2 linked regions of the Homo sapiens genome follow. The protein of the gene in region 1 purifies or fractionates together with the protein of each later gene. This does not show direct contact. Each region holds a gene or a part of one and is shown in the gene's direction. Other genes may lie near its edges.

The links. The genes of interacting proteins can lie anywhere in the genome.
Region 2: the proteins of PCF11 (region 1) and CPSF2 fractionate together in Homo sapiens (co-fractionation; one large-scale study listed by BioGRID). This does not show direct contact.

What each region holds. Positions count from the first base shown.
Region 1 is NC_000011.10:83,163,426-83,167,283, forward strand, and holds part of PCF11 (pre-mRNA cleavage complex 2 protein Pcf11), read left to right. Parts: intron 1-253; coding exon 254-442; intron 443-781; coding exon 782-976; intron 977-2,174; coding exon 2,175-3,289; intron 3,290-3,699; coding exon 3,700-3,858. UniProt on the Homo sapiens protein: Component of pre-mRNA cleavage complex II, which promotes transcription termination by RNA polymerase II.
Region 2 is NC_000014.9:92,128,469-92,131,968, forward strand, and holds part of CPSF2 (cleavage and polyadenylation specificity factor subunit 2), read left to right. Parts: intron 1-2,482; 5' UTR 2,483-2,516; coding exon 2,517-2,665; intron 2,666-3,500. UniProt on the Homo sapiens protein: Component of the cleavage and polyadenylation specificity factor (CPSF) complex that play a key role in pre-mRNA 3'-end formation, recognizing the AAUAAA signal sequence and interacting with poly(A) polymerase and other factors to bring about cleavage and poly(A) addition.

The sequences.
Region 1 (3,858 bases):
AGATGTGGAAACGTTTTGTATATAGAAAGGCTCACCTGGTTGGTTGCTTGCATGAAGGCTAGGTGAAAATGGTTTTAATTACTCTGTTTTTGAAGGAGAAATGCACCTTTAATAAATTATTACTGTTGTATATACTTACCAATGGGTAGTACAGTTCTGTATGTGAAGTAGAGCAGATTTATATAACTTATATTTAATATATAAAATATTCTATAGTAACTTAACAAGCCATAGAATTGTTCTGTTGTTCTAGGTGGATGAAAATACTAGGAAAAGTTTATTTAAGTTACGTTCTACATGGGATGAAATATTCCCTTTGAAGAAACTTTATGCCCTGGATGTCAGAGTCAATTCATTAGATCCTGCTTGGCCTATTAAACCTCTACCCCCCAATGTGAATACGTCTAGCATCCATGTGAATCCTAAATTTTTAAATAAATCGGTAAGTTTTAATATGAATAGTAAGTAACATACTTTTAAGTATCACATTTTGAATTCTTCTGCAGAACTTACTGCCAGAAAGTCAAAATAGAATACTCGGTAGTGAATTGGTTCAATTTGAAAAAAAAAAAAATAGTGTGTATATGTTTGGAATTTTTATTTAGAAATATATTCACCTTGTTTAGGTATTATGTAACATTTATTTTGGGTTTTAAATTTCTGATAAGTTTTCTGTGTGATAGGAATTTGGATCATATTAAGAGTTAAGCTGATAATTTTTACTCCCTAGCTTCCGTTTTAGCTGATACGTTTTTCTTAAACAAATTGTCTTTTCTTATAGCCCGAGGAGCCTTCAACACCTGGTACAGTGGTCAGTTCCCCTAGCATCTCCACTCCTCCAATTGTTCCTGATATACAAAAGAATCTTACACAAGAACAACTAATAAGGCAGCAGTTACTGGCAAAGCAAAAACAGTTGTTAGAACTTCAGCAGAAAAAGCTGGAGCTTGAGCTAGAGCAAGCTAAGGCACAGTTGGTAAGTAAGGGAGATTGTCATTTTAAATATTTTAAACCTGTCTAACAATAGGGAAGTAATGTTTATGTTTGAATTTTATTAACATGTTACTTTTATTAATAGTGTACTCTTTTTTCACTTTTATTTTACAAATGAGTATATTTATTAGACTATACTTTTATATCTTTATTGTAAAATTCACTTGATTAAAAACTGCATAGGCCAGGCGCAGTGGATCATGCCTGTAATCCCAACACTTGGGAAGTCTGAGGTGGGAGGATCGCTTGAGTTTAGGAGTTTGAGGCCAGCCTGGGCAACATAGTGAGGCCCTACCAAAAAAAAAAAAATTAGCCAGGTGGGGTAGTGCATCCTTGTGATCCCAGCTACTCGAGAGGCTGAGTTGGAAGGATCACTTGCGGCTGCAGTGTGCTATGATTGCTTCACTGCACTCTAGCTTGAGTGACAGATCAAGACCCTGTCTCAAGAAAACCCTCCAAAAACTACAAAACTACACTATTTCCTCCAAACAGTTTTCTGTTAGATTGCTATCTTATAAAATAGCATCTTAATTTTGTTTAATCATTACATTATGTGGACTTAATATTTCAGTCCCAAGATGGTAGGCATGTTGTGGCAAATATTTTTGCATAGTCTTTAATGTTTTATGAGCTTATGCTCCATGAACAGAAATGACAAAATTAAGGAGGCCAGGAAGATTATATCTTTCTACACATAAATGACTTTATACTAAGTTATTTTGCTTAGCATCTGAGCTTATTCGACAGTGAGGTGCAGGAAGGCAGAATTTTATAAGTTCATTAATAGCACCACTTTGGGAGAAACTAAATTTTAGGACTTAGAATTTAGCTGAAATGACTCTGATTCTTGTGCAGCCGGAGTGTAGTGATTTAGCAATTTCTTAGGAGCAGTATGGCTCAGAATCCTGAACAATAAGGAAGAGAAACAATTTTTTTTCATTCTATTTAGAGATTATATTATAAAGTCTCAAAAAATACTAGTAAGAAATAATGGGCAACTTAAATCATGGACTTTTTCTTTTCATTGTAATCTCAATTTATACATTATAAGTGTACAATTTAAATGTAGTGTTGAGTAAATATATTTATTGAATAAAGCATTATCTTCTTCAGTTGTTTGCAATTTCTTGACAATCTGCATGTTCTGCAGTGTTAACATGAACATTTATTTTGTGTTTTAGGCAGTTTCTCTTAGTGTTCAGCAGGAAACATCCAATTTAGGTCCTGGATCTGCACCATCCAAATTACATGTTTCACAGATTCCCCCTATGGCAGTTAAAGCTCCTCATCAGGTTCCTGTGCAATCTGAGAAAAGCCGTCCAGGACCATCCTTACAAATTCAGGATTTAAAAGGAACTAACCGGGATCCTCGTCTGAACAGGATAAGCCAACATTCTCATGGAAAAGATCAGAGTCACAGGAAAGAATTTCTAATGAACACATTAAACCAGTCTGATACTAAGACAAGTAAAACTATACCCTCTGAAAAACTAAATTCATCCAAGCAAGAAAAAAGTAAATCAGGTGAAAAAATAACCAAGAAAGAACTTGACCAATTAGATTCTAAATCGAAATCGAAATCGAAATCACCCTCACCTTTGAAAAACAAATTATCTCACACAAAAGACTTGAAAAATCAAGAATCGGAAAGTATGAGGTTGTCTGATATGAACAAGAGAGATCCAAGATTAAAAAAACATCTTCAGGATAAGACCGATGGCAAAGATGATGATGTGAAAGAGAAGAGAAAAACTGCAGAAAAAAAGGATAAAGATGAGCACATGAAGTCATCCGAACACAGACTGGCTGGAAGTAGAAATAAAATCATAAATGGCATTGTACAAAAACAGGATACAATAACAGAAGAGTCAGAAAAACAGGGGACAAAACCAGGGAGATCGAGTACTAGAAAGCGATCAAGATCTCGATCACCCAAGTCTAGGTCACCAATTATACATTCCCCAAAGAGAAGAGATAGGCGGTCACCCAAACGAAGGCAAAGAAGTATGTCTCCAACATCGACACCTAAAGCTGGAAAGATTCGCCAATCTGGAGCTAAGCAGTCACATATGGAAGAGTTTACACCACCTTCTAGGGAAGACAGAAATGCTAAGAGAAGTACTAAACAGGATATTCGGGATCCAAGGCGAATGAAAAAGACTGAAGAGGAGCGACCACAAGAAACTACAAATCAGCATTCTACAAAGTCAGGCACTGAACCAAAGGAGAATGTAGAAAACTGGCAAAGTTCCAAGTCTGCCAAAAGATGGAAATCTGGTTGGGAAGAAAATAAAAGGTATGATGTTAACATTTTAAGTCAAGTGTAGTAGTGTATATGTTTCAAAAGATAGTGTTAATTTAAAAATTGGAAAATGTTTATTAGGTGCTATTAGTACTTTTTTTCCATCTAATTCTTACATCTCTGTGGGTTAAATACTATTATTATTTCTATTTTACAGATAAGGAAACTGAAGTTTAGAAAGGTTAACTAATCTACCTAAGGCTGCAGTCCAGGACATGCAAGAATCAGAATTCATATCTGTTTTTGCTGATTTCATATTTTGTGCTCTTAATCATTTATTTAATTACTTTTTGTGGTTACATATGCCCATTTTAACCATATCCTTTGAAAAGAATCTTTAAATATGGTCCTGAGTATTTTTTAAAAAAACATTTCAATGTAACATACTGCTTTTATGGTTTCAGCTTACAACAGGTTGATGAACATAGTAAACCTCCTCATCTGAGGCATAGGGAGAGCTGGTCAAGCACTAAAGGAATTTTATCACCTCGAGCCCCAAAGCAGCAACAGCATCGATTAAGTGTAGATGCCAATCTTCAGATTCCTAAAGAGTTAACTCTTGC
Region 2 (3,500 bases), on another chromosome or scaffold:
GAGACTCCGTCTCAAAAAAAAGCAAATAGCACAGCTGTAATTCTCCTCCATATCCCATCCCCCCGCCGGCCCTGCATGATTGGAGTTAATCAGGACTGGGGTTTTGCCAGCCTAGTAGAGAGAAGTACCTAGAGGAGCAAGACATTTGAGTGTTTGCAAATAATGTTAACAGATCATGAATTGAAGGTGAGGACCTGAGTAAAAACAGGAGGGGGTCATGGATAGGGAAAAAGTAGTCAGCGAATTAGAGAGATACCACTGACCCCAGAGGATTTTTGCAATGGGAATACTAGAGTAAGTAAGGTGTTAGAGAATGAGATGCTTGAAGTGAAATTTTGAAAGTAGAACAGTTACTGGTAGTGATAAGGTCTAGGGTGTAATCGTAGTGGTGGGTGGCTGAAGTGAAATGATTATTGGAGTTGAGGAAGTCAAGGAACCAACAGGTCAGTATTGAAGTTACTGAGAGGAACAACGGGTCATGTAAAAGTCCTCAGTGAATGAGGCCAGGTGAATAGATGCCATAGTGAAGAGGAAATGTGGAAGACTAATAGTGAACTGCTGGGTGGCAAGAGCTTTAATGGGACTAGACTATTTGAAAGAGGAAAGAGAAGACATGGTTTAGAAGCTGCAGTGAGGAGCAAGGAACACATACCTCCTGCTTTTCAAGTACAGGGGGTACAAGAAGTTAAAACAACAACAACAAAAAACCTTGAGAAGGCCGTAAGAGGAAGAGTATGATGAGGGAACAGCCAGGTACCTGGGAAGACAAGCAGGTGAAGAGAATTTTCAGAGAAGCAGTTGCAGTTACAGGTGAGTATGATCACAGTTCCAGAGAGCATCCTGAAAGGATTTGAGAGGGAGAAGAGGTAGGGGATTAGGTCTTACTGGGAGACGTACACATCGTTGATAATTGATAACCTAGCAGTCTTGTGATTTTGGCTGTCACTCAGATAAACAAGGCTGGGAGATGTGGTGGGTTTAGCAGCCCCTGTCAGCCTCTTATGAAAGGTGGATATTCAGTTTACCTTAGTTTGTTGATGGCCTTGAGTAGTGGTAAGAAATTATTAGGTAACTCGGTGGCCTTCTCTCCTACTTGCATAGTTAGCCAGGAAAAGCTCATTTATTTTAGGGAGCTAAAATCTGAAATGTTGCTGTGGAGTTGAACTTTGCTAATGAATATTTTCATAACTTCTGCTTAATAGCACACAGTTCCAGGTTCTAAATCCCATTTTTAAAAAATGTATATATTTTATTTTATTTATTTTTTAGATACAAAGTCTCACTTTGTTGCCCAGTCTAGGGTACACTCTAGGGTCTCACTCTGTGCCCAGTCTAGTGGCGCACTCATAGCTCACAGTAACCTCGGACTCCTGGGCTCAAGCAATTCTCTCATCTTGGCCTTCTGAGTAGCTAGGACTACAGGTACATGCCACCAGCCAGTTTTCTTATATTTTTTTTTTGTAGAGACAGGGTCTCACTACATTGCCTAGGCTGGTCTCAAACTCCTGAACTCTAGCAGTCTTCCTGCCTCGGCTTCCCAAAGTGCTGGGATCACAGGCGTGAGCCACCGTGCCTGGCCTGTAGATGTGTTCATGTTATATTTTCCTGAAATATATGTAGTAGGCATCCCAATTTGCATTTCATCAGATATATGTTGAAGCGTGCATCAGGTTCTATTTAGGGAGTTGCAAACATATGCCACCTATGTTTTTCAGTTGCTCACATTCCAATGCAAGGGTTCTTAATGTTAAACTCCCTGAAAAGTTTGTGAATTTCTACGTGTATATGTACTCTTGTTTTTTGTTTGAGTGTGTTGAGAGTTGGTGGGGGAGGGGGAGGGTCCATAGGTTTTTATCAGATTCTCAAGGGGATCTATTTAAGGACCACTGGTCTAATTAATGGGAGAGAAAGACATGTAAACTAATCATTGTAATACAGTGAAATCAGTGCCATCACAAAGCAAGATAAAAGAGGAAGAGATTCACCTTGAAGGATGAGTTCATTAATTCCTAAACATTTATTTATTGAGGAACTTGGATGCAGTAGTATCTGTTATAGGTAATTTATACATTATTTGAAATACTTCAACATTGTTTTTACATGTATACTAATACTAATGTTTTATAGACTGAGATACATAGGTGAGGAAAGTTTAATTAACTTGCTTCAAATCACATAGAAGTAGATTCATATATGGGTCTATTTGATTGCAACATTCACTACCCCACTAGGGAGCCACTAAAGGGCTCATTGTGTCTAAGATTATCTTTGTGCTTTTAAACTTGGCAGTGACTTAATAAACTTGCTTTCACTTAAAAAAAAAAAGTAAACTTGGCAATGATGGAAATGGGCCTTTAAACTGCTTTTCGTGTTAATGGAATTTCTATGCACTTAAAGATTTGAAATAATTTTAATCAATTTGTTTATTATATATGCCAGACTGTGCTTTTATGTTTAATTATGTTTTCATTTCATTTGAAAGACTCTTCTAGCTTGCTGTTTCTGGACCAAAAAAAATGACGTCTATTATCAAATTAACTACCCTTTCTGGGGTCCAAGAAGAATCTGCCCTTTGCTATCTTCTCCAAGTTGATGAGTTTAGATTTTTATTGGACTGTGGCTGGGATGAGCACTTTTCTATGGATATTATTGATTCCCTGAGGAAGTAAGTTACATTTCATAATTCTATGTTTTTATTAAATCAACTTCTCTTTTCTGTACTGTAATACCATTTCGATGTGATAAATACTGCCTTTTTACACTAGTTTATAGCAAAAGGCTTAATTTTACTTATGCCAAAAACCTATAGTGACATTTTAACTTGTAAAGTTTTGATTGACTTATAAGCTTTGCTTGTTGAAATTCAGCAAAATCTTAAGCTAATGGATTTCAGTAGAAACTTTTGCATGCTAATTTTTGGAAAGAACAAGAATACATAAGAATTTGAGAAGAGGAAACATTTTCCATGTGAAAGTTCTGTGGTCAGATCACATTAGCTTACTTTCTACATCTTTTGATGCTTAACATTGTCAGCTGGTTCTCAGAATGACCATGAGATACTGATTCATCAAAAAAAAAATCAATTATGGGCTGGGCACAGTGGCTCACGCTGGCAATCCCAGTACTTTAGGAGGCTGAGGTGGGCAGATCACTTGAGTTCAGGAGTTCGAGACCAGCCTGGCCAACATGGTGAAACTCCAACTCTACTAAAAATACAAAAATTAGCCGGGTGTGATGGTGTGCACCTATAATCCCAGCTACTTGGGAGGCTGAGGCAGGAGAATTGCTTGAACCCAGGAGGCAGAGATTGCACTGAGCCGAGATCGTACCACTACACTCCAGCCTGGGCGCAAAGCAAGACTCTGTTTCAAAAAAAAAATAAGATAAAATAAAAAGTCAATGATGTTTGCAGTATTATACTAATTTTGCAAGAAAAGAGGACTTAAATATTTAAAAAACTTTAGAACTTGAGAAAAAAAATCCAAACCATTTTATTAATT